Linked DNA regions of Homo sapiens. The protein of the gene in region 2 purifies or fractionates together with the protein of the main gene of each other region. This does not show direct contact. Each region holds a gene or a part of one and is shown on either strand. Other genes may lie near its edges. The genes, in order: WDTC1, ZPLD1 and GNPTG.

The links.
Region 1: the proteins of ZPLD1 (region 2) and WDTC1 purify together in Homo sapiens (affinity purification with mass spectrometry; one large-scale study listed by BioGRID and IntAct). This does not show direct contact.
Region 3: the proteins of ZPLD1 (region 2) and GNPTG purify together in Homo sapiens (affinity purification with mass spectrometry; one large-scale study listed by BioGRID and IntAct). This does not show direct contact.

What each region holds. Positions count from the first base shown.
Region 1 is NC_000001.11:27,293,580-27,297,230, forward strand, and holds part of WDTC1 (WD and tetratricopeptide repeats protein 1), read left to right. Parts: intron 1-442; coding exon 443-537; intron 538-934; coding exon 935-1,050; intron 1,051-2,746; coding exon 2,747-2,822; intron 2,823-3,468; coding exon 3,469-3,577; intron 3,578-3,651. UniProt on the Homo sapiens protein: May function as a substrate receptor for CUL4-DDB1 E3 ubiquitin-protein ligase complex.
Region 2 is NC_000003.12:102,465,969-102,469,619, forward strand, and holds part of ZPLD1 (zona pellucida-like domain-containing protein 1 isoform 2 precursor), read left to right. Parts: intron 1-2,995; coding exon 2,996-3,167; intron 3,168-3,651. UniProt on the Homo sapiens protein: Glycoprotein which is a component of the gelatinous extracellular matrix in the cupulae of the vestibular organ.
Region 3 is NC_000016.10:1,354,783-1,358,433, reverse strand, and holds part of GNPTG (N-acetylglucosamine-1-phosphotransferase subunit gamma precursor), read right to left. Parts: intron 1-3,651. UniProt on the Homo sapiens protein: Non-catalytic subunit of the N-acetylglucosamine-1-phosphotransferase complex, an enzyme that catalyzes the formation of mannose 6-phosphate (M6P) markers on high mannose type oligosaccharides in the Golgi apparatus.

The DNA.
Region 1 (3,651 bases), on a different chromosome or scaffold from region 2:
CTGCTAGTTCTTATAACACTCAGAACCCCCACAGCACTCTCAGACCTGAGTTGCCTCTCCAGCCTGGGCTTTCCATGATTCTTGGGATGGATGCAGGAATGTCGCCTGTTTATTTTCATTCATGGGCTTGGTGACCACTGCTGCCCCTCACACACTGCATGGCTTGGAGCGGGTCTTGAACCTTAGCTTGCTTGTTTGTAAAATGGGAAAAATAAGATGGTCATGAAGACCCAGACAGCTTATAGGACCTACCTGGTAAAGCACTGTAATGTATATGTCTGTAATTGTCTAGTTGGTGGGCCTTTGGGGTTGCTTAGGTAAGGAGGAAAAATACCTCCTGTATGTCTCAGATACAAATGTAAGTTTTCGTCTAGTGAGTGTGGTCTGGTCTAGCCAGGGGCAGTGCTGTAACTTTAACCTATATGATTTTCCTTCCCACCAGAAAGAGCATGAAGCAGAGCCCTTCAGCGGGTGTGCACACCTTCTGTGACCGGCAGAAACCCCTTCCGGACGGTGCAGCCCAGTATTACGTAGCAGGTAGCGCTCAGCACAGCTCTGGCCCCAAACTCTCGGCTAGATGCTGACTCTTTTGGGGGCAGTCCAGGGAGACAGCATGGCATGGTGGTCAAGAGCAAGGGTTTTAGAGTCAGACAGACCTGAGTTTTAATCCCAACTCTGCCATTGACAAGCTATGTCACCTTCAGCAAATTACAGAAAAGAAACTCATCAAGGTTAAGTAAAATGGGGTTATAATGACTAAATGAGATAAAATATATAAAGCAACTAGCCCAGTGCATATAGTAAGGGCTCAACACTTGTAGCTGCTTTTATGCTAAAGTTGATTGGTATAATTTTTGATATGACTGACTTCACACAATCTCATGCCCCTTTGAAAGGGACTGGGACCCTAGTATGACTGGGCTATTCCCTGCAGGTCACCTGCCAGTGAAGCTTCCTGACTACAACAACCGTTTGAGAGTGCTGGTTGCCACCTATGTGACCTTCAGCCCCAATGGCACAGAGCTACTAGTCAACATGGGGGGGGAACAGGTATGTACAGCATAAGGTGGTTCTGCCCCATCACCATTCCATGCCCAGCAGCCAGGGGCATGTACCTTATGTTCACTGCTGAGGCAGACAAGACACAACAGCCTTATGGTAAATGATGTTACATTGAAATGTGGGGGTGATGTGGCATCATTGGAGTTCCCAGAGAGATGTCCTAGCTCAGTCTTTTTATTTCATTTTTTCTTAATGAACTAGATAGAAATATGATAGTATGGCATTTTGGTTAAGAATATAGGCTTTGGAATGGACAGACTTCTGTTCAAATGCTGGCCTGCTGTTCAGCAGCTGTTTACTGTGACTTTGAGCAAGTCTCTTTATTTTTCTGAGCCTCAGTTTCCTCGTCTGCTATTTTCCTAGGAGGAAATCCCTGGGGCTCAGAGCATGCAGCTCAGAGCAAGCTGTGGGTTAGTGCCAGCTTTGGGAAGTGTTCTTTGATAATGGCAGGTTGCTAAACCTTCTGTTTGTGTGCTCTCAGGATATTTAGTAAGCCTTGCATACATTTATTTACTCTACCAACACTGAGCACTTACTCTGGGACTCGCATTATTATAAATATAATAGAGACAAGTGGGAAATATGATCCATCCCCAGGCTGATGGGAGACATGACAAACGAAACAGTTAATGACATTACAAGGCAAGGCCCAAATATATACAAATGAAGCGGGATGCAGAATAGGTGAGGATAAGCCAGACATTCCTGGACCTGTCCAAGGAATCATGAAAAGCTCAGGAGTAGTGCTAGGGTAAACATTTGGCTTTGTGACCTTTGAGGACTTCTTCATCTTTTTAAACATGTGACGTGTTTTTTGTTTTTTTTTTTTGAGTTGGAGTTTCGCTCTTGTTGCCCAGGCTGGAGGGCAATGGTGCGATCTCGGCTCACTGCAACCTCCGCTCTGCCTCCTGGATTTAAGCAATTCTCCTGCCTCAGCCTTCCAAGTAGCTGGGATTACAGGCACATGCCACGCCTGGCTAATTTTGTATTTTTAGTAGAGATGGGGTTTCACGATGTTGGTCAGGCTAGTCTCGAACTCCTGACCTCAGGTGATCCGCCCACCTCACCCTCCCAAATGCTGGGATTACAGGCATTAACCACTGCACCTGACCTTCTATTTTGTTTGTTTGTTTGTTTGTTTTGAGGCAGGGTCTCATTCTGTCACCCAGGCTGGAGTGCAGTGGTACAATCTCAGGTCACTGCAGCCTCGACATCCCAGGCTCAAGTGATTCCCCCACCTCAGCCTCCTGAGTAGCTGGGACCACAGGCACACGCCACCACACCTGGCTAGTTTTTGTATTTCTTGTAAAGACGGGGTTTTGCCATGTTGCCCAAGCTGGTCTCAAACTCCTGGGCTCAAGCAACCACCCTCCTGCCTCAGCCTCCTAAAGTGCTAGGATTACAGGCTACGCCACCATGCCCAGCCAAATGTGATTCTAATTAATGATAGTATTTCAAGCAGGACTTTGGGTAGATCAGATAGCCCACCCTGAATGCTAGAGCTAGGAAGATTTTCCAGCCTGAGGTTTGCTGGAAGTACCTCTTAGGATAGCTTGATTGTTCTATGCTCAACACTCACTGTGTTCCAAGACTCTAGTTCTTGAGAAACCAAGACCTGCTTACTGGTTCAACCACATCCTTACCTCACAGCTTCCATCTCTTTTTTTGCCCCCCTCAACTCTAGGTCTATTTGTTTGACTTGACTTACAAGCAGCGGCCGTACACCTTCCTCTTGCCTAGAAAATGCCACTCCTCGGGGGGTAAGTTCTCCCTTAGGGTATCTCTACTGCGGCGGTGTAGGGGAGCTTAAGTGCATGCTACACCTGCTGAGAAGCCTGCCCTTTACTCTGGACCGTGATCCTCCAAAAATAGCAGATCTCTGAAATAACCCCACCTATGCAGTAAGAAAGAGGATGACAATAGAGCAGAGATCTCTTCAAGAGCTTTGCATCACTGCCCTTTTTGCTTCCCTCTGAAAAGACAGGTTCCTTCCATGGCTTGGCTCTTGAGAACCTGAAATAGTTCCCCTCTCCTTTGTATCCTGGCCCAGTCTTCTCATTGATTTCTTCCTGGGGCCTACAGTTGATTTAGGCACCTCCTCACTCCATTCCCACCCCCAGCCCCAGCCCTAGCCCCAGCCCCAACCCTAGCCCCAGCCCCAGCCCTAGCCCCAGCCCCAGCCCCAGCTGAGTAATGCCACGGTGAAGTTGTGTCCCTCGCCAGCCAGCAGAGGGCGCACGGGCTTTTCTTTATGTCAGAACTTGCTTTCTGGGAATGGATCTTACTCTGGGAGAACAGTCCCACGATGGAACCATCAGACCCCGTGATGGAAGCTAGAGGGCTGCCAGGAAGAAATGGGTCCTCTTCCTGAGTTGTTGCTGTCACTTTCTCACTATCTCCTGCCAGAAGTCCAGAATGGCAAGATGTCCACCAACGGTGTGTCCAACGGTGTGTCCAATGGCCTGCACCTTCATAGCAATGGCTTCCGGCTGCCGGAGAGTAGGGGACATGTCAGGTGAGGCCAGCTGGCTTGTCCAGCCCTCCAAGCCCCAGTTACACTATATGGACTGGAGGGAGGGACATAACCTG
Region 2 (3,651 bases):
GGCACTACTTTGAATGGAAACTGCTATCCCCAGGGCTGGGGAATCTGAAGAAAAAACAGTAGAGAATGCTCAGAGCCTCAGAAGTGGCAGATCTCATAAAGTACCAGGAAAAGTATACCTTCTAAAGGTAAAGGAATCGCCTGGGAAGGCAGGGGCTCTGTCCTTGGTGGCAAGGCTGGTGAATAAACCTCAGGAACCCAGGGCTGATGGTAGAACCCTGTGAATATCTTTTAAGTTCAGTCAGCTGCACAGTTCTGCTATATTCAAAGAAAGTTGTTATTGAAAAACAGAGGAGGGAGCCCTTGAGTTGGGGAAACCCTTAAGGAAGGTATTTACCATTCCACATTGCCTTAGGGGTCCTAAAAATTTTAGGTTTAGGGAAATCCAACTCTTTCAAACTTGAATGATAAACAGATGCAGGTATTTCTTGCAGTGTTCCAATATTCTACAGGAAAAATATCGAAAATGGCAGAAAAGAAAATTTAAAGGTGAATTAAACTCACCAGAAAAATGCTGCCATGGAATATATAATATATACATTCCCACATTAATTTTTAAAAAGCAAAAAGCATCATGGTTATGAAGATAGAATTATGAGAACTTAGGTAAGTAAGGATAGGACAGTAAAAGCCATGGCTATGGAAATGTGTAAAGGAAACTGGGATAAGTGAAAATAAACAGAAATACAAAAAAATGTGTGAGAGGAAGGGACATGTAATTAGAAGGCATTCAAAGGAGTGCAGATCACAGCAGAAACAGTGTGGGACATGAAAGATAAGTATAAGAAATACAAATAAAAATAAACAAATATGAAGGAAAATAAAAAGAGGATTAAGTAAGAAAGATAGAAATAAAAAGGTGAGAAAGGGAATTCGATATATGTATAATATGCATAATTAGAATTGTCCCCCCAAAAGCCAAAATAATAGAACACATTGTTTAAAAATATAATCCAGGAACACTTTCCTAAATTAAAAAAAAATCTTACATTGATATAATGAAATGATGCCCTGGATGAAATTGAAGATTTCATTAAGTGGAAACCAGGGGAAATATAAAAAGACATAGAAATAAAATTTAAAAATTAGAATTTTACCTCTTACAAAACTTACTTCTGGTGGCCAACAAGTAAGTAAGGAAGTAAGGATACAGAAAATCTAAACGACATACGCAATAAGCTATATACAGAGAGACAGCAATTTATAACGATATCAAAAACCAGAAAGTCCTCACCACTTGGAAGTTGTAAAACCCATAAATAAGACTTGTATCAAAAATGAAAATATGAACCAATGTTTTGGAAGAAGTTAAGAAAAAGTTGGTTCCTTGAAAAAATACATTAATAGAGAATCACAAGCTAATCACGTCAAGAAAAAAAGGGATAAATGACAAATACAAAAAGATAAGCCGGGAATCAACATGGAAATGAGCAGAGTATGGTTCTATCAGATATCACAATCAATAAAATGTCACAATTATTAAAGGAATGTGATATTATGCAAAGCTAGACACATAGACAAAAGTCACAGAACAGTAAACTGAGAAATAGATCCCCAAACATATGGGAATTTAGTGTAAGATAGAGTGTGGTACCACAAATCAGTGGGATAAGTAGATTTTTTAAAACAGTGTTGGACATGGATAACAGTAAGATAAAAAATAGTATTGGACCTATACTTCACTCAATATACCATAATAAAACCTAAATAGATTATTAATTTAAAGGTAAAAACTACAACTTTAAAACTGGTAGAATAAAACAAGAGAAATACCTTTAAAACTTTGGAGTAAGGAAACTGGCTTCAGTGTAAATACTAGAAGCCACAAAATAACATATTGAAAATTTAACTACGTAAGAATAAAACTGTACACACACACACACACACACACACACACACACACACACACGGAATGTCCAAAGCCAAATAACAAAGGGAAACAATTTGCAACTTATATAACAACCAGTAACCACTTTTCTTAATACATAAAAGAACTCATAAGAATCAGAAAGAAAATGGCCAAGAACACAACAGAATTGATCAAAAGACACAAACCATTTTCAGATAAAGAAATGCAAATGACTATAAGGTATGTGAAGATACACAAACTCATTAATTATAAGAAAATACAAGTTAAAATTATAGGGTGATAGTTCATTTTTACTCTCAAATAGGGAATAATAAAAAATTTGATCCATACATTTCGCTGATGTAGCTCTGGAGAAGTAAGCATTGTTTTCATATATTGCTTGTGAAGTCCAAAATTGAATAATATTTATATAGGGCAAAGTGACAATATCTATTAAATGATTATATGGATGTATTCTGTAGTTAATCCTGTACATGTTCAACATGATATATTGTAAGATTATTCATTATTAGTTTTTAAAAAGCAAAAGATTCAAAAACAATGCATGTACATAAATAGGAAACTGATTAAATAAACTCTGAAACATGTCCATGATGAAATACTATACAGCTGTGGAAAAAAATGAGGAAGCTCTCTAAATATTGATACGGAAAGATCTCTAACACTGCTAAATCTTTAAAAGGCGAGGTACCACATAGTGTAGACAATATGCTATCATTTGTTTAAGGAGGGAGGACAATAAGAATACATTGCTTCTGTTTCTATTTTCATATACCCTGGGAATGATGTGAAAATAAATGAAAATAAATGAGAATGAAAATAAGTGAGATCACCTCTGGCAGGTTTCTATGTATTTTAAATTATTTGGATTTTTGAACTACATGAAAGTATAATTCTTCTAACTATTAATGCAATCAGAAACTGATCTGTTTAAATTTTGTGATCCAGGTTTTATTGTCATATCTGTTGAATTAGCTTATGCTATGATTAAATATCTGTAACGTGGCATGGTTCTGTTAGCTCTTAATGTAATGGCGGAGTCTTAATACGGTAGAAATTAATTTACAAGTCCCAGTAGGTTGGTACTTTCCAGTGATGTCCTGTTTTCACGTTCCCTAAAATTTAGCTGTGACAAGGACCCTCAGACCACCGTCATTGAGAATGGCCGAAGCCAGCGGGGCCGGTTTTCTTTTGAAGTGTTCCGATTTGTGAAACACAAGAATCAGAAAATGTCCACTGTCTTCTTGCACTGCGTTACCAAGCTCTGCAGAGCAGATGACTGCCCCTTCCTTATGCCGGTATGTTTTTAAGGAACTTCATTTTAAGTTGTTGAATTGATCTAAGCTGAAAGGTTATCAAATGTCAGAAACTAAGTTCTGCATAGAAAGTGGATATGTGTTAGATCAAATAGTTTGAAGTAGGATTTATTCATTTGTCTAGTAAAGATCTGCTAAATATCCTACTTTGTGCCAAGCATTATACCGAGGATACAGAGATGAGGTGTGCACAAATTCTGAATTTAATTAGATTATTCTTTAGGATCATTAGCTAGTCACAGAAGAAATCAAGACAAAAATCTTATGGTGCAAAGGCAGACAAATATATGGGTTGTAGTAACAGGCAGTATTCACCATTGTGAGAGAGATGAAGCAGGAGAGGTTGAGAGGATTGTTAGAGATGAACTCCAGCTGTTACTTCGAAGAGGACTGAACCCCAGAGAACCAAAATCAAGAGTGTGAGAGACATTGCTGGCCAAACGATGGTCAAAGACAGAGACACATA
Region 3 (3,651 bases), on a different chromosome or scaffold from region 2:
TCCAGCCTGGGGGACCTTGGGGACACTGTGCCAAGAGGAGTTGGTCAGACACAAAAGGTCGCACACAGTTATGAGTCACCTATGTGACGTCTATGAATAGCCAAGTTCAGAGACAGCAGAATGGTGGGTGCCGGGGCTGGGGGAGCGGGGCAGCTGGGAGTCAGGGTTTGAAGGGGACAGAGCAAGTTGTGGAGATGATGGTGCTGACGGTTGCAGGGCAGTGTCACCAGCGCCTGGGGGAAGAGGGAAGGCGTGCAGCGTCCCTACCCTCCAGCCAGGCCAGCCCCAGGCAGTGCTAGAGCAAGGGCGTGTACACATCAAGGCCAGTGGCAACTCGTGAGTCAAGCCACAGCAGCCACCCTGTTCTTTAAGCTGGGGAGTCGGGACCTGGCTGGGGACGCCACCTTAACACAGCGCCCACCGAGACTGTCAGCCACGGGCCATCCTCCAGGACTGTGGGGAAGGCTGGGGCTTGGGCCGTGGAGGCAGGGAGGGGACTGGCCCCCATCCCCGTCCCCTGAAGGGCCTGCGCTGCAGCAGCAAGTGCACTGGTTAGAGGAGGACGCCCCAGACTGATGTTTCAAACTCTCTGTAGTTTTACCGTATTAATAATAAAGTCGAGGCCAGGCGCGGTGGCTCATGACTGTCATCCCAGCACTGTGGGAGGCCGAGGCGGGCAGATCACGAGGTCAGGAGATCGAGACCGTCCTGGCTAACACGGTGAAACCCCGTCTCTGTTAAAAACACAAAAAATTAGCCGGGCATGGTGGCGGGCGCCTGTAGTCCCAGCTACTCAGGAGGCTGAGGCAGGAGAATGGCGTGAACCCGGGAGGCGGAGCTGGCACTGAGCCGAGATCGCGCCACTGCACTCCAGCCTGGGCGACACAGCACTCCAGCCTGGGCGACACAGCGACACTCGGCTCTAATAATAATAATAATAATAATAATAAAGTCGAAATACACACGAGGTGCTGGGTGACTGTTCCCTGGGAATCTGGCCAGCCCAGGAGCCAGATGCCACACTGGGGCCACCCTCAGCCTGGCCCCCGCCCCCGGAGGGCAGAGGCTAATGCCACTGAGACCTCTGGGGTGCTGGCCCGGCCTGGCCTTCTGTTCCCTGACATTCCACTCACCCCTGGGGCTGTCCCCTCCCAAGACAGATGGAGACCAAGATGGCCAGGCTGCCCTGCTCAGGGGACAGGGGCTGTGGATATAGAAAGGTCCTGGTCCTTCCTTGTCAAATACCATCTGGGTGGCCCCTACTCCCAGGCTCACCCACTGTCCTCCCAGCCTGACCGCTGGGGGCTCTACCTCAGCCCTGTCACACCTGCTGTCCCACAGCCTGGGGTGCTTGGGCTTGGTCCCTCCAGTCTGGCCCTAGGGCCCTGCCCAACAGGCACATAGGGAAGCCTTTGGAGCCATCCCAGAGACCCTGATGTGTCCCTCACCCATCTGCCACTCAGACTCCTGCCCGCAGACCGCCACCCGCACACTCCCGCCCGCAGACCCCCGCCCGCACACTCTCGCCCGCACACTCCCGCCCGCAGACCCCCGCCCGCAGATTCCCGCTCTCACACTCCCGCTGGGAGGGTGGCTGGTCAAGCTCCTGTGTCCTGGGAACTCACGTTCCCAGGCTTGCCCCAGGCAGACACTGCTTGGAGACACCCCAGGAGGGGCGTGGGCGCCGGGCTTAGCTCTGCACCTGCAGGGCCATCCGTCTAAACAGGACTGTGTGAGGGCAGCGGGGCCTGGCCTGGCTCCCCAGCTGGGAGGAGGCCTCTGCCTGGGTGCTGTCCACAGCTTCAGTGGACTCCTACTGGCTGAGGTGCAGCCTCCCGCAGGGGATGGTACCACAAGCCCCCAACTGGCAGTGCCCAGTACCCCAGGTCCTCTGCTGCTGGCCCACACCAGAACCCCGGCCACGGCCCCTCCCCTCCGCCTGGCCCTCAGGTTTCAGCAGCCTGTCCTCCTGAGACAGGTGGGGGCTGGCCCCTCCACGCCTCTTGGGCCAGACACAGCCATACCTGAGCGGGAGTCTCTACCCCCAAATACCACCACCCCCAAATGCCACCACCCCTGCCGGGAGGCTTCTCCTCTGCTCCTGCTTCACCCGCACGTCCCCTGCAGGCTCCGTGTTCACGGCCTGCATGGCCAGGACACTCGCCGGTGCCCTTGGCTCCCGCGGGCCCAGGTGGCCTTACTGCCAGCTGTCCCTGCACCCGAGGCCACAGCTCAAGGCCCATCAGCTTGGCTGAGCCTGGACTCCGTTTCCCCTCTGCCCCGGTCAGGCTTCGGTGGGCAGCACTCCCCCTAGGGCTGCGTCTCTTGGTGACAATCCCTTCTCAAGGGTGGTCCTCCCTCCCACGCTGCTCCCTGGCCCGGCCCCACACCTGGTCCCAGTACCCTCCCAACCTCCACAACCCCCACACGCCACCAAGAACTTCACCGGGGACCTCACCCTCACCCTCCGGCCTCACGCACCCCCTGGTGAGTCCTGTGCCCACCGTGACCCTCTCCAAGCACCAGGGACTGCCTGGCAGACCCAGCCCGGCCCCAGCCGAAAGCAAGCTCCCAGCCTGACCCCTGCAACTCACATGCTGGGAGCCGCACTTGCCATGGCTTCTCTAGCCAGGATCCCGGGGCCACTCTACTCCTCCCCCGCCCCCTCCCCAGATCCAGGACCCTGCCAAGGCCCCAGAGTCCTGCCCAGCTGGCCGCTCCCTCCCACCGCCACCGAGGCAGAGCTCCCTCCTGGACAGTGTGCTGGGCTATGCTGGACTCTGCTGGGCGCTGGCAGGACCACCACACTGACCGTGCCCCATTCCCTCTCCATGCCACAGCGGGACACTGTCTCCAAATCACAGACCTACCAACCTCTGCTCCTCCTGCTGTCAAGGGACGAGGCTCCCGACTCATCTGGTGGAGGCCATGGAGCTGCCCACTGCCCAGCCCAGCCCCACCAGCCTCGGCCCTGGCAAGCCCACCCCTTCCTTCTCCTTGGCAGACACTCTTCTGCGGGGACCTTCTGAGCCCTAGGCCACAATCACCACGCCCCTGAGTTTCTCAGCCTGATTATCTTTCTGCTCAGCTCATTCCACAGACCACACTCTCCTACCCACTGCACACAATCCGCCTCACACGTTGATGTTGAAGGAGCGCTACATCAAAGACAGAAAAAACAAGTAGAATATCCACACCCGACCCCACAGACGCAGGAGAGGATCCACACCCGACCCCACAGACGCGGGAGACGATCCACACCCGACCCCACAGACGCGGGAGACCATCCACACCCGACCCCGCAGAGGCGGGAGACCATCCACACCCGACCCCGCAGACGCGGGAGACCATCCACACCCGACCCCGCAGACGCGGCAGACCATCCACACCCGACCCCGCACATGCGGGAGACGATCCACGCCCCACCCCGCAGATGCGGGGGAGTATCCAGGCCCCACCCCACAGACGCGGGGGACTTTCCACGCCCGGCCCCACCCCACAGACGTGGGAGACAATCCACGCCCGGCCCTACAGACGCGGGGGAGTATCCACGCCCAGCCCTACAGACGCGGGGGACTATCCACGCCTGACCCCACAGGCGCAGGAAAAAATGGTCTGGAGAAAAACACCATCAACAAAACAAAAAGATCA